Linked DNA regions of Homo sapiens: all the other regions are reported to be linked to region 3. The links are microRNA targets in miRTarBase. Many come from high-throughput screens and were not tested one by one. Region 3 holds a microRNA gene; each other region holds the end of a gene's coding sequence.

What was found. Region 3 holds the annotated microRNA hsa-miR-337-3p (CUCCUAUAUGAUGCCUUUCUUC, at 5,375-5,396, opposite strand). A microRNA usually pairs through its seed, bases 2 to 8, with sites in the 3' UTR of a target mRNA and lowers its output. Matches are read on the target gene's strand: a 7mer-m8 pairs with bases 2 to 8, a 7mer-A1 pairs with bases 2 to 7 and ends in A, and an 8mer does both.
Region 1: miRTarBase lists APOL6 as a target of hsa-miR-337-3p. Seed matches in the 3' UTR shown: 7mer-A1 at 4,249-4,255, 7mer-A1 at 2,285-2,291 and 8mer at 128-135.
Region 2: miRTarBase lists VASH2 as a target of hsa-miR-337-3p. Seed matches in the 3' UTR shown: 8mer at 2,849-2,856.

What each region holds. Positions count from the first base shown.
Region 1 is chr22:35,658,122-35,666,129 of GRCh38, reverse strand. APOL6 (apolipoprotein L6) reads right to left here. Exons shown (of 3, transcript NM_030641.4): 3 at 1-7,515. The coding sequence ends at 6,534. Among named protein-coding and RNA genes, the nearest start is that of APOL6, 14 kb to the right of the region's middle. RefSeq lists an enhancer at 5,172-5,281.
Region 2 is chr1:212,987,200-212,995,187 of GRCh38, forward strand. It overlaps VASH2 (vasohibin 2), which reads left to right. Exons shown (of 8, transcript NM_001301056.2): 8 at 1,313-4,386. The coding sequence ends at 1,385. ANGEL2 (angel homolog 2) reads right to left here. Exons shown (of 9, transcript NM_144567.5): 9 at 4,983-7,988. The coding sequence ends at 7,842. Among named protein-coding and RNA genes, the nearest start is that of ANGEL2, 25 kb to the right of the region's middle.
Region 3 is chr14:100,871,941-100,879,948 of GRCh38, reverse strand. It overlaps MIR337 (microRNA 337), which reads right to left and starts at 5,456; the gene lies at 5,364-5,456. MIR665 (microRNA 665) reads right to left here and starts at 4,916; the gene lies at 4,845-4,916. It overlaps RTL1 (retrotransposon Gag like 1), which reads left to right. Exons shown (of 4, transcript NM_001134888.3): 4 at 1-196. RefSeq lists a silencer at 2,544-2,754 and an enhancer at 6,108-6,277.

The DNA.
Region 1 (8,008 bases), not on the chromosome of region 3:
CTGATAATGTACACTAAGTTATATTAGAATTATAGGAGTTTCACATAATTTTGGAACATACACCAATAACATATTTATACAAATACAGCCCAAAGAAAACCAAACACCATTTCACATTTGACAATGCTTCCTATATAATTTTTATACCAAATAAGCCAAATTATGTCATTTTAGGACTTTAGGGAAACTAAGATCTTAAAGGATTAATTAGGTTAGAAAAATACATAATTTATAATTTGATTTTGGAAAGCTTGTCAAATACAAAAGGTTTAAAACACTTGACATTACAAAATAAAATTACAGGTCATCGTAAAGTCATTTATTTAATCCAAGTGATAATTCAAGGATTTCAAAAAAAGCAAAAACCTTCATTCTTTGAGAGAGGTGACTTAACTTTCTAAACAAGAAGCCCTAATAAAAACAGCCTGAAGCCAATCACATTTGATTTTCAAAATTTTGTAAACAAACTATAAGATTTAATCTTGATTATAAAATATAACTTCCATAAGCCTTTTATAACCTTTATGAAGGAGTTGGTTAATGCTTCAAGAAAACCTTGCTAATCAGACACAGGGGTCCATATACTGATTTTGCATCAGTGTGCCTTTGACTTGAATGATTAGTTCATAGAGAAACTGAACTTACTGGATCTTTCAAAATCGGCCCTTACAATCTTACGCGCCCACCTCTTCCGCAATAGTCCCTGGGCCTTGAGGAGTTGAATAGCTTTAATTTCTTGCCTAGTGCCTCAGGAATGCAGTTTATTTTGATTGGCATCTTCTACGGGGCCTTAAGATGAGGCTTTGATTGTCATCAGTGTTTGTGATTTTTCAGACACAGGAGTTAAAGCCCTGTAACTCAATGTTACAAGGACTTTAAAAGCATACACAGGAAGATACATGGATGTAATAACCTTGATTTTTTAAAAATTAGCTCTTTCTTCCCTAAGCAAACCAAAACTTAATAATAATATGACAACTTGATTATATAAAAGCTTTTGGGGTGTGTGTGTGTGTGTGTATATATATATATAAAATCTTATCATGACTTACACCAATGTTCATGACATGCTTGGACTTTCTGGTTTGTCCTGAACATCCCTCCTTGTTAAACAACCAGTTATTTTATTTTAGGACTAAATTTACCATATAAAATTCTTTCTTATATAAAATTATTTCTTTTTCAGCTTTTTAACCTTGAAAAAATTCTTTATTTTTATAACTTTATTTACATTTTTTTTCTTTTCTGGTTCCTTTTACCTTGTTTTATATATAACCTTTTAATAAGCTTTGAATTAGACAAAACTTGTTCACCATTTTTTTAAAAAAGGACACACTTTTTTTTAAGCAACAATGTTTTCCTACAAGATATATTTATTGGAAAATACCCAAATAATAAATTATCTATTATTTAATTTAATATGACTTTATATTCTAAATTATGTCCAGTTGGTCTATAAGTATTTATCCCATTACATTTACCTAGTTATTTTATTAATTGTTTACCTAGATTATTTATAAAAACTGTGATAGTCATGATTTAAAGTTATGAAACTTCCATTGCAAAATTACAACTGAGACAGTGAAAAACGATTTGACCTAACTGACTCCACCTTGCTCTTAACTTCCAAGCTGTCCTTGTTCATTCCTGGGCATAGGCCGAATGAACTTTGGGAGGAACCTAGTTTAAGTTCAGCTTCGAAACAATGACAATAACAGTCCTTTCCCAAAACAAACCTCCTTATTGTCTGTGGACTAAACTGCCTAAAGCCACAGGATTAGAAGTTATGGTAATCTTACTAAATTCAAGATGCAGCTGTTTTCATTAAACCCATATCAATGTCTTATTTATTAAAAATTACACAAGCAAAGATCATTCTGTTTTGGGCTGGGTTTATAGTTTTATAACCCCTATGCCAAATTTTGACACCTTCTGGTATTTGGCAGGGATAAGTATAAAACTGTTTGATTAATATAATGCAAACAAAAATGTATGCTGGCAATTCTTAAGACATTTCTAATACTACTTTACCAATAATTTTAAAGCTACTTTATTTATTAAAGATTTTACTTAAGTTACATAAATTTGAAAAAGCATTTGACTAGCCTTTTCTTTTTTAGTATCTGATTTAAGCACTTTTATTTTTCTTTAAGCCAAGTAGAGCTCTTTTACATATTTTTAGCACTAAAACATCGTGTACACAACACATACATACATATAAAGACGTATTAGGCATGCCAATAGAAGTACATTTTATAGATTTATAATGCCCCCCCACTTTTTTTTCCTATCTTAGACTTTCAGATTCTTGATAACCTGTTTTACAACCCTAGGCAGTTGTCAGCTAAATAGCCTTAAATTTTTGCACATTAAAGGAAACAACCCAGGTGAAAATCAAATAGCAAAATTTACATGATAAGGTACAGAGAGGAAAAGTCTGGTGGTGTTAGAGGGAGATGCTTTTATTTTTCTTTGAGCGATATTAAACATAAAACGAAACTACATTCTTCCTTAACCCAAGAGTAGCCTCTGTTGCAATAGCTATTTTAGTCAAAAAATCCGGTGAAAACAGAATTCAGTCAACTGAGAAGTAAAAGGAAAAAAAAAAAAAAAACTTTTGCTACAAAAAAAAGACAAGGTCTTAGGAGAGAAAAACAAACAAGAAACAAAAACATGAAGGCCTTTCAAATACAAACATGCACAAAACACACATCATGGATGTTACTGTTTCAGTTAAGCAGACTTTCAACCACTGAGCTTCTTTAAAAACTTAAAAAAAAAATCTTATTACCAAATCTCAGCTAGGACAAAGTGTTGCTATTTCAGAAGTACAGCCATTGCTCTTTGAGTTTGGTCTGGCTAGCAAAAAGCTGGCTGTGTTATGTAAATAAAGCCCCTATAGTAATTAAAATTTAAAAAAAGTTTTTTAAGCTGGCTGTTTTCCTACCACTTCAGAGTCCTTGACCCCGTAATTTAGGGTTCCCCTTCAGATTTGACTAAGACAGAAACAAACAACAAAACAGTTAAGCAAAACTAACAATGGTCACACAAATTATACAATTTCTGAGTGCTCTAAGTGCATTGGAAGAAAGCTGAAACTCCATAAAAACATCACCTGCCTTCCATCATCATGAAAGCAGGAAAACTTGCCTTCCTTGTTGGGAGCAAGTAAAACTCCAAAAAAAGAGGTGTTGTACAGCAAAATAAACTTCCGATCTCTACCAAATTTTAAGAGATCAGGGATTTTCTGGAGGGAGTCCTCTCAGACCTCAGCAAATTGTCCTATTGGTTTGAGCCATAAAGTTAGCTCATGCTGGTACCAAGCACCGATAGATTTGTCAAGGGTCAGGGGCATCTCCACCCAGAATCCATTCATGGTTTCCAAAATGTGAACCCAGAAAATCCGAGACAGGTCTCAGTTAATTTAGAAAGTTTATTTTGCCAAGGTTGAGGACACACTGTGACACAGACTCAGGAAGTCCTGATGACATGTGGCCAAGATGGTTGGGGCATACCTTGGTTTTATACATTTTAGGGAGACATAAGACATTAATCAATATATGTAAGAAGAACATTGGTTCAGTGGGGAGGGAGCTTCCAGGTCACAGATAGGTGAGACACAAACAGTTGCATTCTTTTGAGTTTCTGATTAGCCTTTCCAAAGGAGGCAATCAGATATGTATCTATCTCAGTGAGCAGAGAGATAACTTTGAATAGAGTGGGAGGTGGGTTTGCCCTAAGAAGTTTCCCTAAGCTTGAGTTTTCCTTAGTGATTCTGGGGCCCCAAGATATTTTCCTGTCACAGTTGACATCCCCAACACAGTGTTTAGGGCTCAGAAAAAGATACCCTAAAATAGGGTGCTTTGGCATGCTGAGTGCTTTGAATAAAGGAGACTGAAGGGCCTCAGAAATAAGAGAACAAAGGTCTATCTCTGACCCACTGCTGCCCACCTCCCTTCCCTTCCAAAGCACAGGGAGGGATTTTCTTTGAAGTTCTCTTATTTGATTAAGGGAAGTTTCTCCAGAAGGAAGGTAATTGTCCTGGACACCCCTTCCTGGAATCTACATCGATCAGAGAAGATTAACTCATATTGCAGGACAGGAGAATAATTAAAAGTTGCTCAAGACAGCACACCTAGATAGACTTTTTGCTTATTCTTTCAACTATAGTTATGTGTCCAATAACAATGTTTCGGTCAACTGCATATACAACCATGGTTTGATAAGATTTATAGTGGACTTGAAAAATTCCTATTGCCTAATATACTGAAGGAAGAAAATGTTTTAATATGCATTTTGTGTACCCTAAGTGTGCTGTGTTTATAAAGCCTACAGTAGTATACAGTAATGCCCTAGGCCTTCACATTCATTCACCACTCACTGACTCATCTGGAGCAACTCTCAGCCCTGCAAGCTCCATTCGTAGTAAGTGCCCTGTACAGGAGAGCCAATTCTTATCTTTTATGCCATATTTTTACTTTCCTTTTTCTCTGTTTACATATGTTTAGATACACAAATATTTCCCATTGTGCTGCAATTGCCTATAGTATTCAGTAGTCACATGCTGTACAGGTGCGTAGCCTGGGAGCAATAGGCTCTCCCATATAGCCTAGGTATGCAGTAGGCTATGCCATCTAAGTTTTGTATAAGTACAATCTGTGATAATCACACTACAATGCAATTGCCTAATGACACATTTATCAGAATGCGTCCCTGTCACCAAGAGATACATGACTGTATTCTTCTTCTTTTTTTTTTTTTTTTTTTTTTTTGAGATGGGGTCTCATTCTGACACCCAGACTGGAGTGCAGTGGCATGATCTTGGCTCACTGCAACCTTTACAGCCTGGGTTCAAGCGATTCTCCTGCCTCAGCCTCCCGAGTAGATAGGATTACAAGTGCCCTGCCACTACACCTGGCTAATTTTTGTATTTATAGTAGAGACAGGGTTTTGCCATGTTGGCCAGGCTGTTCTCAAACTCCTAACCTCAGGTGATCCAGCTTTATTAGTGTAATTACACTTTATCAGTGTAATAAGGCAAACTTTGCTCACCACAGACTTCCTCCCCCTACCCCCTCCCACAGCCTGTGTCACTACCTCCCCATCAGAGGCCTCACTTCCTGTAGCTTGGGGTGTTATTTAAGCTTCTGCCATCTGGCCCACATTAAAAAATGTATATGCTTTTTCTCCTGTTAATCTGTCTATTGTCAGCTTGTTTTATAGATTCAAATTCTTAAACCTTCAAGGTCTAGAAAGGAAGTTCCTTCTACCCCTCCAATAGTATAAAGAAGTGGAGCCTTTTGGTAGGTGATAGAGTCATGAGGGCCCTGCCTTTAGGCATAGAGTTAGTGCCTTTATAAAAGAGGCCCAGGGGGGCTTGTTTGCCCCTTCTGCCATGTGAGAACACAGCAAGACAGTGCCATCTGTGAAGCAGAGAGTGAGCCTTCACGAGATGTGGAATCTGCTGGTGCCTTGATTTTAGACTTCTCAGCCTCCAGAACTGTGGATCTCTGGATACATCTCTGTTGTTTGTAAATTACCCAGTCTAAGGTATTTTGTTATAGCAGCACAAACAGACTAAGACACTTGGCGAGTGACATAACCTGTCTGGCTTAGTCATCTTTGGTTGCTATAACAAAATAGTAACAAACTACTATAGATTGAGTTGCTTACACCACAGAAATTTATTGTTTCACAGTTCTAGAGGCTGGAAGTCCCAGACTGACTGACTTATTCAGTTCCTGGTGAGGGCTCTCTTCTTCTGCCTTGCAGATGGCTGCCTTCTTGCTGCATCTGCAAATAGCCTTCCTTCAGTGTAGGTGTGCAGCAGGGGTGGGGAGGCCCTCTTGTATTTCCTCCTCCTCTTATAAAGAAGTCAATTCCATCGGGTTAGGACCTCACCCTATGGCCTCAGTCAACCCTAATTACCTCCCAAAGGGTCCATCTCTAAATACAGCCACATTTTGGTTTAGGACTTCAACATATGAATTGGGAGGAGGAGACAATTTAGTTCCTAACTCCGCCTGTGGCTCTGTGACCTCTTTGTTAAAACTGGGAAGACCCGGCTGGGCAGGGTAGCTCACGCTTGTAATCCCAGCATTTTGGGAGGCCAAGGTGGGTGGATCACTTGAGGTCAGGAATTCGAGACCAGCCTGGCCAAAATGGTGAAACCCTGTCTCTACAAAAAAATACCAAAATTAGCTGGGCGTGGTGGTGCGTGCCTGTAATCCCAGCTACTTGGGAGGCTGAGGCAGGAGACTTGCTTGCACTCAGGAGGCAGAGGTTGCAGTGAGCCGAGATTACGCCACTGCACTCCAGCCTGGGCAACAGAGACCCTGTCTCAAAACAAACAAACAAACAAACAAACAAACAAACAGGGAAGACCCTTTTCCCAGCACATAGGCCTTAAGGAGCATTGAAGGAGAAACAGAAGGCATGCCGAGGTCTGTCCAGGACAGGCACCCTCATCTCCAAGATGTACTTGATATTATTTGGACCTCCAAGGCCATTGTATGCCATGTCCTGAGGAACATTCATGTAAACTGTACATACACACAGACACACAGACACACACACAGCCACAGCCACATCCACACATGCTCCCTTAACTCCTTCCAGTAAGCCTCGGTTTCGCAGGTCCCAGTTAAATCCTTCCCCACCCCTCTGGCCCTTGACCTCACTTTCTGCTGCAAGCTCTTGTAGAGCTGGGTGAGTTCTGTGAGTTTCCTCTCCAGCTCCAAGGCCTTGGCTCTCAACTCTTCCGCAAACTTTGTCCTTGCTCCTTCCTTCAGGTGCTTCCATTCCTTTGAGAGAGTGGCCAAGTCATAGCCAAGGGAGAAGGCGGACATCACACCTCCCAGCACGCGAGCATTTTTGGTCATCGCCAGTGTTGTTCCCGCAAAGGCCTTTTGCACCTGCACGCGGCTCCGGGAGGAGACTTGGCCAGTGGTCAGAAGACGCTTGGTAGCATTGGCCAAGCGTGGGTTGGCTCTGAGTTTCCAAAATGCACGGACGTTTTTCTTGGCATACTTCAAGGTGTTTCTAAGATTATAGATAATCTTTCCAGCAGCTGTGACATAGTCTGCCTTCTCTTCCTCATCCTCCCTGTCCTCTTGGTCGTAGGTGGGCAGTATGTCTTCCGCCCGTGCTTGGGCTTCTTTATTTTTGGAGCGTTCCAACGTACCACTCACGATGCTGGTGACCCCAGCTGCTGTTGCCAAACCTTGACCAGCGGTGGAGAGCAGCAGGCTTCCTCCTCCTGTTGCTGGGGCAAGGGCTAAACCCAGGAGGCTCATCACTCCAGAGATGACAGCAGTAGAGGTGGCCACCATGTTAGCCTTGGTGAATTTCTTGTGGGTTTTGTCAATATCGTCTGCGAGGGCACGGAGCTTGTCAATGTTCCCTTTCAGATCTTCTTTCAATCTGGGAAATTCTCTCAAAAATATTTTTTCTTCGGGGGACAGATCTCCGTCTTGTAGCTCCACGTCTTCACACAGAGGAGCGTCATCCTCATCCCTGAGGAGAAATGAAATAAAGATTTTGCTTCAGCTTCCCAGATGGGAAAACCCATGTGGCTCTTGGATATTCTTGCCACTCTCAGCTTCGAATCCTCCCTGTACCTCCCTACAAAATCCCCTGAAAAGTCCTAGAGCATTGTAGAGTAGTTCAGCCTTCGCTGAAAACTACTGGTTCCATGGAAAAAAGAAACACATAAGAGGGGCATGTGGAAGGACAAATGTGAATCACCCCAGCCTTGGTCAAGGAATGGGGAAGGAAAATTAAGTCCTGAGGTATGTTTTCAGCCTTGTTCAGAGAAAGCACAGCACTGCTGCAGAGGAGGGGCAGTGGGGAAATGTTAAAACCCCACTCAAGATAAAGAACTTGGGAACAATGGCGGGAGAGTTCTGGGAAAAGTAGGAGAAAGAGAAGACAAGGTGGTGGGCAGGGGATGAGCGTCCCAGATGTGTAGAAGTGAGTAGGAGGGTGGAGGGGGCCATATTGCATCATA
Region 2 (7,988 bases), not on the chromosome of region 3:
GAAATCTTTCAAGGGCATAAAATAAGAAACCTTCTAACAATTATATTTTCTTTTTGGTCTTTTTTTTTTTTTTTAATACTTAAGAACAAGGTTCGGCTGGGTGCGGTGGCTCACACCTGTAATCCCAGCACTTTGGGAGACCGAGGCAGGCAGATCACCTGAGGTCAGGAGTTCGAGACCAGCCTGACCAACATGGTGAAACCCCATGTCTACAAAAATACAAAATTGGCCAGGTGTGGTGGCACATGCCTGTAATCCCAGCTACTCAGGAGGGTGAGGCAGGAGAATCACTTGAACTGGGGAGGCAGAGGTTGCAGTGAGCCAAGATTGTGCCACGGCACTCTAGCCTGGGCAACAAGGGCGAAACTCCGTCTCAAAAACAAAAACAAAAACAAAACAAAAACAAGGTTTATGTGTAACCTAAACATGTCTTTTTCTTGCAAAAATGGATGTGAAACTTTTGAATTAGAACTCACTAGCCATACTGAATATCCTAAACTTGATTCATGATCTCAGTTCTCTCTTATCCAAGGTGAGAAGAGGCTCATTAAGAAATGGAAAAGTTGTAAGATACATTGTGAGATTGTTTAGGCATAATCGTATATTGGAAGTCATTTAGGACGCATCTTTAATGAAGACAGATGATGTGCTATTGATGTGAATGTTGTATTTCCCAGCTTGAAGTACTTTCTCACATGACTTTGCATAATTGCTTAGTTGTAGTTTTATGTTGGAAGTGACTTTAGCACGTTTCTAGGGAAGAGATGTTTTGCCACTGAGTGATTTTCCACACTGACATGCTTTTTCAGATGAATCCTAAGATTCACCTTGATTTTATACATTCAAGCCTGAACATTAACCGCTCCCTGGGAACGTGAGTCACCTTTGATTCCTGGGCTTCCTCCAGGACACGAACACTAGGAAGCCAATGTTTCAAGGAGAATTTGACTCAGATTCTTGGCTCTACTGTAGTGTATGTGACTTTTAGACCCTTGCAAGGTTCAAGAGTACTGGGTTTCAAAAGCTATAATGTGACCAAAGTCAGGCTTAAAGCTGCAGAAGCTCATTCCACACCCTGAAAACTTTTCTGAACTCTACATTGAAAGTCTGTTAAAATGTTCCTTAAAACCTTTAAAGGTGGACTTAAGAACAAGAAGTAGAGTTGTGAGCTAAGGCTGGCAGGGTGGGGGAATGGGAGGATGAGACAAATATCAGAAGGATTAGGAAAACCGAGTAGAGGACCTTGAAAATGCTGTTGTCTTTCTTTGCCCCATCCCCTCTCCTCCACCATATTTCTGTCTTTTACCCTTAGGCCTGCACTGCCTGAAAAGAAGGTGGCTGATCTGAGCACTCTGAATGAAGTGGGCTATCAAATCCGAATTTAGCCAAGCCATACCGGCCAGCAAGAGGGTTTCTGTGGTGCTTCTCTCTGCACTTTACCCAGCATCTTCAGGAGGAACTGCAACTATTTATTAAGAACTTGTGAATTTTATTTTTAAGGATTCACCTGGAAATAGAATCTGAGTGGGTGGTAACCATTAGCTTTAAAAAATTCACTAAAAGGCACCATGAAAAGGCTGAAGTAATAAGCCCCACTGGGGTTGGACTATGTCCCTCACTCAAGATCTTAAGGATAACCGTAACTGAAGTTTTATATTTTTCCATTTACCTACTTTCTTTTACTTGCTTTGAACATTATGCCTCACCAATAGTAAATGTTCATGAAATAATCTCTTGAACTTTTGGTATAGTAAGGTAACTCTAACAGTATTACTGTCTTTTTCAGCAATAACAGAAAGCAAAAATGGGTGGGTTTTTTTTAAGCAGTTATTACCTCAGCATTTTGACATCAGATATGCAAACTTAATGGCGTTTTGTTTTTTTATATTCTATTTGTATTCTTTCCCCAGTATTTCCCATGGGGATCTCCACAAGTTTGGAGTTTTTTCCTGGTGCACACACGTGAGGAGATTTAAGGTACTATATGCAAGTGTTTTACTAAAAAGCACTGAAATTCTTCTGGCAATACAAGAACCATTTTCAGGATCTTGGAGTTACTTCCTTCTTAATCTTTCTTAAAGCATTCACTGATGTTTTTGTTTTTTCAAAATGAAACAAAAATATCACATTGAGAAGCTAGTCTATGTTCTGTCACTAACATTTAAACTTTGCAGACTCTAACAAAAAGCACAAGAGGTCACGTACTATTATACAAATTTAGCGGTACTGGATTTACCTCTGACATTAACACACTCAGGCAGAGACCAGGAGTGATCAGCAGGTCTTCAGAACCAAAAAACCTTTCTGTTCACATTTCATCTGATTTTTAAACTGAGGCAGGCTTTGATTCTTCTGAAGGATGCCAAGAATCAAACTAAGGGAGGACTCACTGTTAAAGATGTGTTCTGATGTCTTATATTAAGACCAAATGTGACATGATGTGATTATCTTCCAGTACTTTGCTTTTAGGTACCATTTCATGACATTTTAGGAATGAGTATTGGAAAATATAAAGAATTAGAAAAGCAGCACTTTTTTTTTAATGGAAAAGTCTTCGGTCCAGTGTTACACCTTATAGTGTAATTCAGTCCCTAAGCACAGAATGAATGTCTGGCCTGCATATGGTAGTTACAGTGTAACCTCTGGCTGCAGACCACACAGGACAACCCTAACAGCCTAGTCTTGTATGGTGTAAATATCAAGAGTACAGCTTCAATTTCATTTGCTTTATCTTAGCAACAATGCCAACTCAGGAGAGCAGACGGCCGATTTCAGTGAAGTCTGGTAGTCAACAGATGTTATTTCAGTCTCAGTGCATCTCCTCTGGCTTTCTTTGACTGAAGGTGTTTATAGGAAGGAAGTTAAAAAAAAAAAAAGCTCATTGAGATTCTTTACCAATTCTTTACAAGATTTCTGGGGGTGACAGGGAAAGCAAAAGGACTTCAAAGCAAAAGGGTGCACAAGAGCTTACTTCACCCTGAAAATCAGTATTATTAATGAAAAGTACTGTTTTCTTAAAGAAGTCGAATGTCCTTTAGATGAACAAGACCAAGTATACATCTCCATTAGATTAAAATGTAGCACAGGGTTAAAAATTATCAGTTTAATCTCTTTAAGAACAGTATTATCAGAGTTTAAAATGAGTTAGCTCTGTTTATCTACACACAGCAAACCCATTCGCAGCCTCTTGGCCACATGTATTCAGATGTTTGAAATAGTGAATCATTTCATTTTCATTCTAAAACAATACTGACTTAGCCATATACCTTCTGTTTGTCAATCTGAAACTTGCTTACATCTAATAAGTAGACCTCTTATAACACTGCAACCATTCTAAGAGTTGGAATTTATTTTTGCCAAGTATTAAGTACTGTTACATCTAAAATACAGAATGTCAAATGGTTGCATAGCTTGTTTCCCACAACAAGGAGGAAAAGAACAGGAATACAAACTCTGTAATATGCTGATAAAGAAGCCTTAGAACTGCCAACTGGCTTGATGGTTCAATTAGTAAGCTAATTTCTCCCACACCCGCTCCTTGATTTTTAGACTAATTTTCCCAAAGCAAGGTTTAGTCACACAAACTTGAAAGTACATTTAAAATGTTCTTAGTTGTCATCCTACTTTTATTGCCTATGGAATATGCTAATTTCTAAAAAAAATACGGGAGAGGCACCAAACCCCTAAATTCTAGTGCAATAATTTAAAAAACAAAAAACAAAACAAAACAAAAAACATGTTATATGCACCCCCCTCCCAAAGCTGATTTTAAGACTGGCTAGAATTCAAAATATAAAAAATAAAACTATGAAGTGATTTGAAATCGGTTTTAAAAAGTTGTTAGTGCAAGAGAAATTTTATGTTTAAGCCATCATGGCAATATATGCAAAGTTTAAATGAATGACAGAAATCTTGATTTTAGACTGTATGTTGTGCTGTTTTGAGTACACTTTATTTCGGAGATATTTAGTATTTTCTATACACTCTGAAATCATGAGCATTTCACTTTTTCTAAGTCAATTATTTCATAAGGATTTTATTAATAGATATTGGTAAATAGAACTTTGGAAATCTTAATTCAGAATTCTTACTATACCTGAGTCTTTTGTAAGCTATAGTTTTATGTACAACCTTGTACAGTTTTTTTGACATACAATTCAGAACTTTGTTTATTCTCTTGGACTTTGTTCTGGCCAATACATTTTTTTTAAATCTTTAAGAAGAACTGTGATTGTTTTAGTGGGTATTTTTCTAATTAAATGAAAACTTGTATAATGGTATTTTAGAGAATGCCAGTAAGTGCATGTTTCAAGTTAATGTTTTTCTCATCACTTGTATGTTTCTAACACAGCATGGGACTTTAATAAAACCATCCTGGAAACTTAAGGATTGTTTTTCTTCTAAATATGTAAGATGTGGCCGGGCTCAGTGGCTCAAGCCTGTAATCCCGGCACTATGGGAGGCCAAGGCGGGTGGATCACCTGAGGTCAGGAGTTCGAGACCAGCCTGACCAACATGGTGAAACCCTGTCTCTACTAAAAATACAAAAAATTAGCCGGGCATGGTGGCGGGCGCCTGTAATCCCAGGTATTTGGGAGGCTGAAGCAGAAGAATCGCTTGAACTTGGGAGGCGGAGGTTGCAGTGAGCTGAGATCCCGCCAATGTACTCCAGCCTGGGCAACAGTGCAAGACTCAGTCTCAAAAAAAAAAAAAGTAAGATGGTGTGATTTTTTTTTTTGGTCCTCTTATTATATATTTATTCTACTGAACCTATTTATCGTTCTTTCACCCTTCTTTCACAATCTGCAGACTCTATATTAAAAACACTCTATCACTCTATTTTGACATATCTCAATTCACTCATCTTTTAGCATCACCCCTAAGTAAAAATGGCTGCAAAGGGCAATGAAATAGTTTAGTAAAGGCAACAGTACAGCTTATACATCTCAGTATACCTACCACAAAACCTTCAGGCACAGAAGTACGAGTATAATAGTTTATTACCTAACTTACAGGTACAAAGTGCAAATGACTTGACGCCTCTCTTTCCCCAATCCCTTGAACTCTCTGGATCTCAAACTTTCTTTAGGAAAGCAAAGGTTAAAAGCAGACAGTAACTAAATTCCAAATAAAGACAAGATTTCAAACATGAATATTATCTTGATAGCAAAAGGTACAGTAAAACCAAAATTTCATTACTCCACAGTTTACCTTTCCATTTAAAACTTGGATAGTATAACACTTGAGACTGAGAGATTTGGTTTCAGGCATTAACCAGATTTAATTGTTTTTGGCAGGTAAGTACAGGCTCTGGCAGAGTTACCAACTATTCTGGTCAACAAAAGTAAAGACAAGTGGATAATTATTTTTAGTGGAGCTTTAAAAACCTGTGAGAAGCTCACATTGACTTTTTGGCCTCCAGTCCACAAAATAATACTTCATTTGATAAGCTAAAGTAAAGAGCAATTTTATGGATTAACTCTATCAAAGTGAAGCACATGAAAAATGGGCCTAAAGTCACAATATATTAATCAGGATATAAAAAATTAAATTTTCACAGAGGTTTTCAGGGATGTTTGTTTGTTAACAATGACCTATATGTAATAATGTTATTTGTTAATAAATTCACACAACACAAAGCAGTAATTAACTAATGAATTTTCATTTTTCTTTCCCCAATATTAAAAAGGGATAATTATACTATCATTATAATTTGATAATGTCTATATCTGCTAATTAGGGCACATAATATCCTGCAAACTACTACTATAAAATGTGGGAAATCCTAGAACTATAATTAATACTGTAATTAAAATCCCCCCAAAGGCCAGGCATGGTGGCTCATGCCTGTAATCACAGCACTTTGGGAGCCCGAGGCGGGTGGATCACCCCTGAGGTCAGGAGTTCAAGACCAGCCTGGCCAACATGGCAAAATTCCATCTCTACTAAAAATACAAAAATTAGCTGGGCATGGTGGTGCATGCCTGTAATCCCAGCTACTTGGGAGGCTGAGGAAGGAGAATTGCTTGAACCCAGGAGGCGGAGGTTGCAGTGAGCCGAGTTCGCGCCACTGCACTCCAGCCTGGGCGATAGCGTGAGACACCATCTAAAAAATAAAAAAATAAAAACCCCCCAAAATGAGAAATTAAATATTTAAACATATTCAATTACAATTTTTACTAGACAAATCTTATAATCCACATGCCTTCTCTGAGGTTTTCATCTGTTTGTTTTTTTAAAAATAATTATAGCAAATGCTTTAGTACAAAGACTTAGTCCAAGACTATTATTGTTTTCCAATTTAAGGTGAAGCATTCTATTAATAAAACTCACTGTAAAAACATTTACAATTCAGTGTAAAATTACTACTTAGTAAAAATGCATATAATTCCTTGTTCCTACTGTCTACAAAAAAGGAAATTTCCACTTTTTATGTTTTAAAATTGATTCAAACACTTGTATAGAGGATTTATTAAACCTGCTCATAACCACTTCATAGAAAGTGTCAGCACCATCTCATACTGGTGCATCACGGTAAAAGAAAACATTTTAGAAACAAAACCACTAAAACCAACAGTTTAAATGACTATTTACAGAGCATTAGGTCTCCAAGTTAATATCTCCCCACTAGAGTTTTACAGGCTTCCTCATATTTCTGAGGCTTAACAAAAATAATTTTATAGCTGCCACTTTGTTCCAAAGACAAATTTCCTAATAAAATAAATTTCTATAGAACTGGTTCAGTAAAATAAAATCTCTCCCCTAAACCAGAGATCTTAAAACTGAATTTTTAAAAAATGCTGCCATGTGCAGTGGCTCCCGCCTGTAATCCCAGCACTTTGAGAGCTGAGGTGGGCGGATCACCTGAGGTTGGGAGTTCGAGACCAGCCTAACCAACATGGGGAAACCCTGTCTCTACTGAAAATACAAAATTAGCTGGGAGTGGTGACGCATGCCTGTAATCCCAGCTACTCGAGAGGCTGAGGCAGGAGAATCGCTTGAGCCCGGGAGGCAGGGGTTGCAGTGAGCAAAGATTGCGCCATTGCACCCCCAGCCTGGGCAACAAGAGTGAAACTCCATCTCAAAAAATAAAATAAAATAAAAATAAATAAATAAAAATGCTAGGGAAACAAAGGTATATCCCCAGTCTCTGCCTCTATTAAGCCCACCTCTTGTCTGTTCCAGGGTGAAAGAGTGAGCTTTACACGTTATGCTGGCTTATATTTCCCAAACATTTCCCCAACACGATGCAGGCATATTACATGGCTCAGGACAGTAATAAGATGGATTAAGCATTCTGTACAACTTAAAAAGCATTATCAAACCCCTTCAAAAACAAACTAAACAATGGCTGGTTGGATACCTGTGAATGACCCAAGGCTTTCTAAGATAAACTATTTAGAACTCAATAGAGGGGTCTCCTAATGAAATCAAGCCTTCTGGAAAGGAAACAACTTGTAGTTTGCAAGAACTCAAAGATACTTTGGATCCACTACAGAGCTTGCCAAAATTATGAAATGAAATTTTTTACTAAGCAGACAAAGGAAGATGCATTATATTTAAAAATCACTGTCAATTTTACTAGGATTTAGAATATAAAACCTTTACATCTCTTTTACAATAAAGAGAATTTAGAGCTCACTTGTCACGAAAATATTTTTCATTATTAAAAAAAATTGTTATAAAGTTATTTCTTCTGATATGGAGTTTCAAAGCATCTAACATAACCGCTTCAGAATCTCCACAGTGCAAAAATAAACAACATGCATACACTTAAGAACTTTACATTCTTTGAAAAACAATACAAATTGGAAAGAAAATTAGTATGTGATCAAAGAGAGTCAGAGCTCAAGTCTGAACTTTGCCAATAAAGGCAGATGATCTGAAGAGTTATTTTCGTTTGGAAGTCCATTAACAGTCCATAAGTCTTGTTCTGTAAGAAGTGACAGTCTAGCTAGAAGTTTCAAGCCACCAACCAAAGCAACTTC
Region 3 (8,008 bases):
CAGTGCAGGGGTGCAGGGGCCCCTCATACAGGGATGGAGTCCCAGAAGGCACACAGACACCCAGGGGACCATGCCGAGTCACAGAGAGGCTCTGGCCACACCACCGCTTTGCAAGGGGAGTAGACCCTTCCCCACCCCCCGAGCTTTCTCACCCCCCAATCTTTTTGCACTCCTCAAATAAAGCAAACTAAAAGACTGTCTGACTTTGGGGTTTGTTCTAAAAGTGGAGGTGGTGGGAGGATAGGCGGGGGAGGGGACACGCATGGGAGGAGGGAGGGAGTAGGTGGGGTGGACGAGGGGGCAAGTGGACTGGGCAGGAAGGGTGGGGGCAGGAAACGCTCTGCCCTGAAACAGCCCCTGGGGGCCTGGCACATGGGCAGCAGGCCTCCCCCAACCTTCCTGAAGGCGTCCCCACCAAGACTCTGGGCACTTCTTTCTGCCATGAGAAGGCACCCACCCCCACTGAGGCCACCAGGGACGTGCACCCCCCACAGGCTCATGTCAAAGAGAGGACAGAAGAGGTGCCTTAGGGCAGTGGGAGGCGGGGGAGTGGGGGCTGTCTCTCCTAAGGGTTCCAGAAAAGGGAGCCCCGAAACCCAGTTCCCACCTCTGGCCTTGGCCTCCTCGCCATGTGATTAACGAGGTGCGGTCTGAGCCCCACACTGCAGGGTCCACAAGCCCTGGTCTCAAGCAGTCCCTAACCCCCACTCCGAGAGGAAAAGTCCTGGGTCCCATTTCAGAGGGTCATGCTGTCCCCAAAGTGGCAAAATGGCTGTTGTGAGGGTGAGGGTGCACTGCCCTGGGTAGGGGAGCTGCCAGGGGTCCCACAGGGAGTTGGGGAGGTAGGGCAGGTGGCACTCACCCACTCTGAGTTCCCCCTCCACAGTCCAGGACATGCTGACCCCTCTTCCTGGCCATGGGTCACACCTATCCAGGAGTGGCCTCCAACCTCCCAGAGCACCCCCGCCCCACTGCACCCCTCCACAGGTGAGAGCTCTGCGAGGACACAGAGGGGAAGGAGCCGTGGGCCTCTCTCAGCATGACCTTGAACTTCATCTAGGAGGGCAAAAACACTGGAGCTCTGTGCACACGGGCCCCCATGCCAGGACACACCAGCTCTGCCCTCTCTGCCCTGCTGAGGAACCTGCTCCTGAAGACACACCGTGAGACCACCCAACAGATCTCAGGCTCAAAGCTCAGGGGCCCCGCAGGGGTCTGACTAGCCTGAGTTGGAGCCACCCCATCCCCTAGGAAAGCCATTTCCACCTGGCCCCAGAGTTCTCAGCTCCCACATGGAAGAGACCCTACTGTGTCCTCGAGGGGAGGCACGGGAGCATGACAGCCTCCAGACAGTGTGGCTCTGCCTCCTGCTCCTACCCATCGTGGACCAGGACCACTGGGCACACAGTGGGGAGCCCCTGACCAAGGACACACCCCACGGGAGCCCAAGGCTGGCACTGCAAGCTCAGCCTCCTTCCTTCCCTGCACTGCCCAGCCCCACACAGGGCTCACGATGCCCTCACAAGTCCCCAGGGGTGCCTGGCCTTCACCCACCATCCACCTGTCTGAAGAATCTACCCCTGATAGCAGCACCAGGAGATCATGGTCAGGATCTCCAGGTTCAAAGGCAGGGGCTACACCTCTGGGCTTCTCTCTCCCTCCACTGGCTGGCTGCAGGAAGGCCTCTCCCAGCCTCAGTTTCCTCATCTGTCACTCCAACCCACCAAGGCTGCTGTGAGGATTCAGAGTTAGGAATAAACTGCTGGGCACAGCTGGCACTCAGAGCTCCCAGCCCCATCCACAGACTTCTCATGTCAATTTCCCAAGGTAAACTTGGGGAAATCAAGGCCCAGAACCGGCTGCAGAGGAGCTGAGGACAGAGCCAGGATGGAGGCCCCTTCCTGGTGGCTGATCTTTGTCCTCTCACCTGGGCCACTTCACCCACTCTGCCTCCAGTCACAAGGCCCAGCAATGACCTCCACAACAACCAACATCACAGCAGCTCCAGGAGCTCAAGGGCACCATGTCTGTCTGTCCGTTCACCTAGCACTCTGCCTCTGATGGCAGCCCAAGACAGGCTGCCATGGGTTAAGGCCAGGGGCTCAGCTGCAAGAGGTGCAGATCCCCTTTAGTGACCTGGCCCCAGAAGGCCCCAACTTTGACTTGCTGGGTGACCTCAGGTAGTGGCTGTCCATCTTCCAGCCTGTTTTCCCATCATCAAATGGGGGATGTAGTGAGAGGGAGGGTCATTTCCAGAATAACCAGACCCAGTCTCCAAGGGCCGCTGGCTCCTAAAACCCCCTCTGTTCCCAGATGACATTCTTCTTGGGGCTCCCAAGTCCCTTGAAGTAAACTACCTTGGGATAGAGCCTGGGGTCATAATGGAGGGTCCCTAGATCAGGTCTCCTGAAGGCCACCCCTGGGGGGTCCCAGAGGCTGGATTTTAATGGCAAATCTCTGTCCCTGCTTGGTAAGGGCTCCTTGGGTAAATGTGGGGTGGATTGGCAGTCCCCGTGTCCCTGCAGCCAGGACCGTCGACGACCGCCATCCTTTCCTCCTGGCCATCAAAGATGGAGGGGCAAGGCCGGGTGCAGTGGCTCACGCCTGTAATCCCAACACTTTGGGAGGCCGAGGCAGATGGATCACCTGAGATCAGGAGCTCGAGACCAGCCTGACCAACATGGAGAAACCCCGTCTCTACTAAATAACAAAAAATTAGCTGGGTATGGTGGCGCATGCCTATAATCCCAGCTACTCAGGAGGCTGAGGCAGAGAATCGTTTGAACCTGGGAGGCGGAGGTTGCGATGAGCTGAGATCGCGCCACTGCACTCCAGCCTGTGCAACAAGAGTGAAACTCCGTCTCAAGAAAAAAAAAAAAAAAAGGTGGAGGGATGAACAGGACTACCTTGCAGGGTAAGGCCAAACAGAGAATTTACCAGCAGTAATCACCCGTGCCCCACAGTGGGGGAATCCAGACACGCGCTAAGGTAAGCGTATTTATCCACAGTTCACACACACACACACATATTGACTGGGGGCTCCCGGTGCTAGAGTGGCCACGGCCCCCCACACCAGCAGACAGTGAGGACCTCGCCTCCTTGGCTCCCCTGCCCCATCCAGCCACAGCAGGTTTAGTTTACAGAGAAGAGCGGCAGCCCCCAGGCCCAGAGGAGAACTACTGATAAAGTGATACAACGGACTCTGGGGACTCCAGGAAAAGGGTGGGAGGGGGTGAGGGATAAAAGTACAAACTGGGTTCAGTGTGTACTGCTCAGGTGATGGGTGCACGAGAATCTCACAAATCACCACCAAGGAACTTACTCATGTAACCAAACACCACCTGTTCCCCAAAACCTATGGAAATAAAAAATTCAAAAGAAAAATAATACAAACCTTTTTTTCTCCTGGGGAAAGAAAAAGGAAGGTTAATGTTAAATGTCATGCTGGGTTATGACATCATGGCCACCACAAAAAAAGGTGAAAACTCCTCTGAACAGCAGACAGCACAGCCTGGCGCGGACACTGGCACACAGGCCCACGGGACCTGGCGGGCCACAACTAAATGCACCCATCTTCCACCTTCTCTGTCCACCCCCAGGTCACTGATGTCAGGGGATGGAGGGAGCCCTGAGCTCCACTCCTGCTGAGTCTTGTCCATCAACCTCCCTTCCCGACCCAGCCCACCCCCATGAGATGCCCAACGTGCCAGCCTCCAGCCCTGGTGCACACAGGGCCAGTTTCTGGAACACTCAACAGCACACCACCCAGGCAGCTGAGGGCTACTCACCGCTCGGGTCCGGACTCGCTCATCCCTCCTGCAGGCGGCCCCAGGTCCAGTTAGGGCCTTGGACTCAGGCCCCCGTGCCAGGAGCTTGACCAGCTCTTAACAATCTGCCCAGGGCAGAGACGTGAGGTCCCCTCCTGCCCACCTGGTGACCCCGGTTGCTCCCAAAGTGAAAAAGAGAAAGACAACAAATAGAAGCCATCACCCCCACTCCCAAGCTCCACCCACCCGCTCAGAGCCCTGCTGCGGGGACGACAAGACCCTTGTCATGCCCCAAGCCCATGAGCACTGACCTCAGACCCAAACAGTAAGCCTCGTCCAGACCCCTGTCCACCTGTCTGAGATCAACAAAGACAAGCATACCCATCCTGACACCACAGAAGCTGAGGGGTAGACCAGGAAGGGAGCGGGTGCATGGGGGAAGCGGGGGTGAGGAAGGGGAGACGGGAGGTGGGAAGGAAGGGCAGGGGAGAGGGTGCTCCCTCCTGCAGGAAGGGAGGGGGTGCATTGGGGAGGAGGGGTGAGAAAGGGAAGATGGGAGGTGAGTGGGAAGGGCAGAGGTGAGGGTGCTCCCTCCTACAGGAAGAAGGGGTGCATGGGGAAGGAGGGGTGAGGAAGGGGAGATGGGATGTAAGTGGGAAGGGCAGAGGTGAGGATGCTCCCTCCTGCACCCTCTTGTCCTCTCTAATGGCCTCAGCTACTGCAAGGCCTCTCTCCCCACACTGGCTGCCCTGCTGCCCCGATGCTCATGCCTGGGCTGGCTGTCGTGGCTTGTTAATGGGGTTAATGATGCCAATATCACAGGGCTTGGTGCGGGTCACCTCTGCCATGCACAGGACCTGAGTTAGTCAGAGAGGCAGAAGACAGAGGTCCAAGAACCAGGGGCCACGGCCGTGCCCCCTGCTCATGTTGCCATTGGGCACCCTCAGGTACCCAGCCTGAGCAGGGTACGCACAGGGGAAGAAGGGAGCCCAGCTGACAGCTTCTGGGGACCCAGAGTTGGGAATCCTTGGGGAGAGGGGAAATGTCTCCAGAACAGGTTTAAGGAGAGAGTAAGAAGCCGCCTGTGAGGGGCCTCAGCCTCCTGGTCATGAAAGAGTCCTGGGTAGAGGCAGAGACCCCTCGAGGAGACCCTCCTCTTGGGGCACAGAAAGGGCCAGCCCTGGTCCGCCAAAGCCCCACCCCCTCCACCCTGGGCACAAAGGGGCACCATCTCTCCAACGTCTGTCCATCCATCCTGTGGGCCGGGTCCCTTTGGAGGGCTCTGTGTGGGAGCACAGCCCCAGCCCCTCAGTGGGAGAAGCCCCAGGGCTACCCAACTCCCCCTCCGGCCTATCTGCCCTTGGCTGTGGAGTCAGCCCAGGGGGTGTCCCACCAGGGGCATAGTTCCCTGCCAAGGAGGGGCCTCAGAGATGGCCCAGCCCCAGGCCCTCCCCTCCAGGAAGTCAGAGAGCTGCAGAAGAGAGAGAGAAGAGCCCAAGGAGCATGCCGGGAAGAGGCTGGCAGGACAGCAGCGGACTTGAGGACGCGTCCCCGTGCAGCCAAGGGTGCAGAGGAGGGTCCGGGGGCTGCGCGTGGTTGAAGGGGATGAAGAAAGGCATCATATAGGAGCTGGATAACTGTGCATCAACTCCTGTATGAAGCCGTTCCCACCCCCCAACTACTGACTACGGGCCGCAACCCTCCTCCCGGAAGCGCAGTGCAAGCGCTCGGATGGCAGAGGGGACGCCTGCTGCTAGTGGTTAGAGCAGTGACAGCAAGGGACAGCCAGCCTAGGCAGTGCCACCCACTGCTGGGCACCTGCAGCGCTGGGGTACCTGTCCACCCTGCCCAGCCTTGCCCTACCTGCCTCCTATGGCCAGGGCCTGGGCCTCCCTTAGCCCCACAGAGCCCCCAGGTGACTGTGCAGCCAGGCCAAGGGACGGAGGATGGGGAGGTGAAGGGGGAGACAGGCCTGATTCTGGCCCAGGTCTGTGAGTGGACATCGGGGACTCGACCCCACCCACCCACTGCTTTGACTCCCTGGTACTTCTCCAGCCTTGCCTTCTACATCTGTGAAATGGGTTGCAACAGGCACCTCTGGGGACCCAGTGAGGACTCATGAAGTCCAGGGGCACTTCAAGAATTTCCCAGAGACAGAAAGTAGATTTTTGGTTGCTGAGGGCTGGGGGGTGTGCATGGAGGGTGAAGGTGACAGCTGAAGGCTCTGGAGTTCTTTTGGGGGTGATGAAAATGATCTTAAATTGATTATGGTGATAGTTGCAGATATCTGTGAATAACTAAAACACACTTCGCTGTGAGCTTTAATGGGCGGATTGTGTGTATGTGGATTACATCTCAATAAAGTTGTACCCCAAAACACCTTCCTTTGTTCTTTGACATCTTTCTCAACCACCATACTGCCTGCCTCGTCCTACACTCTCCAGCCATCCACACCACCAACACACATGCACAGGGACACGCAGCCAGGCACGTGGTAGGTGGTGCAAAAATATCTGTGAGTAAATGACCTGATAATATAACATTCTCTGAAAGAGCCCATGGAGGGAAACCTTTAGGGAAAGGGGTTAAAGATTAAGAAGTAGGGGTGGCAGGAGGGTATGGAGGTGGGAAAGAGGCTCAGAGTGACACATGAATGGAAAAGGGGCTCAGATTGACAGACACATGGAGGGAGGAGGGGCTCCCTGTAACACATGGGTGGAGGAGGGGGCTGGTGTGACACACGGGTGGGGGAAGAGCTCCATGGGACACATGGGTGGAGGAGGGGGTTGGTGTGACCCATGGGTGGAGGAGGGGGCTGGTGTGACACATGGGTGGGGGGGGTTAGTGTGACACATGGGTGGAGGAGGGGGCTGGTGTGACACACGGGTGGGGGAAGAGCTCCATGTGACGCATGGGTGGAGAGGGGGTTGGTGTGACACATCAGTGGAGAGAGGGTTGGTGTGACACATGGGTGTGGAGAGGGGCTCCATGTCACATAAGTAAGGGAGGGGCTCAGGGCAATGCATGAGTGGGGGGAAGGTCTCTGGGTGATGCATGGGAAGGGGAGGACTTCAAGTGACATGTGAGAGAAGCTCAGGTGACACATTAGTAGGGAAAAGGCTCCTCATGACACATGAGTGAAGGAGAGGTGGAATGTGAGACAGAAAAGGGGCTCAGTGTGACGTGTGTGGGAAGAGAGTCTCTGTGTGACATATGGGGGGAAGGGACTTGGAGTAACACAAGAAAGGCGACTTGGTGTGACACGTGGGTGGGAAGAGTCTCTCTGTGACATATGGGGGCAGGGACTTGGAGTAACACAAGAAAGAGGACTTGATGTGACACGTGGGTGGGGGAAGATCTCACGGGACACAAGGTTGGGAAGAGATGCCCAGTGAGACACAAGGGTGCAGGGAGGGCTCCGCGTGTCAGAAGGAGTCCATGCAATACATCAGTGGAGGAGGAGCTCAGTACGACACGGGGTGGGAGAGCGGCTCAGTGTTATACATGCATGAGGTGAGGGGTCCATTCGACAAACGGGCAGGGGGTGCTGTGTGCCTTGTGAGTAGAGGAGGAGCTTCATGTGACATATGAGCAGGAAAGAACTCGGTGTAACACATGGACAGGGACAGGGGCTCCAGGTGACACATGAGTCAGGGAAGGGCTCTGAGTAACACATGTTGAAGAGAAACTCAATGTGATACATGGATGGGGAGAGGCATTCTGTATGACTTATGAGTGTGGGGAGAGACTACATGTGTGACACATGATTAGAGGAGGAACTTAGAGTGCAGCTGAATGGGTGGGGCTCCTAGTGACACACACGCAGAGGACAGGGTCAGAGTGACACCTAAGTGGTGGAAGGAGCTCAGTGTGCTACAAGAGTGGGAGAGGGGCGTCCTGTGACACATTAGTGGGGCTTGCTGTGACACCCTTAAGAAAGATAGAACATTCAGTGTGATACAAGTAGATGAGAAATTATTTGTGTCACATGGGTGGAGGCTCCATGTGACATATGAGTGGAGGAGGTGTCGAACATGACACAAGGATGGAGGAGGAGGGGCTCCATGGGACACCTGGGAGGGAGGAGGAGCTGAGGATGACACATGGAAGGAGAAATGGCTCCATGGAACAGGAGGTGGAAGGAGGTGCTGAGTATGACACATAGGAAGAGGAGGGGCTCCATGGGACACCCTGGAGGAAGGAGGTGCTGAAAATGACACGTGGGAAGAGGAGGGACTCCA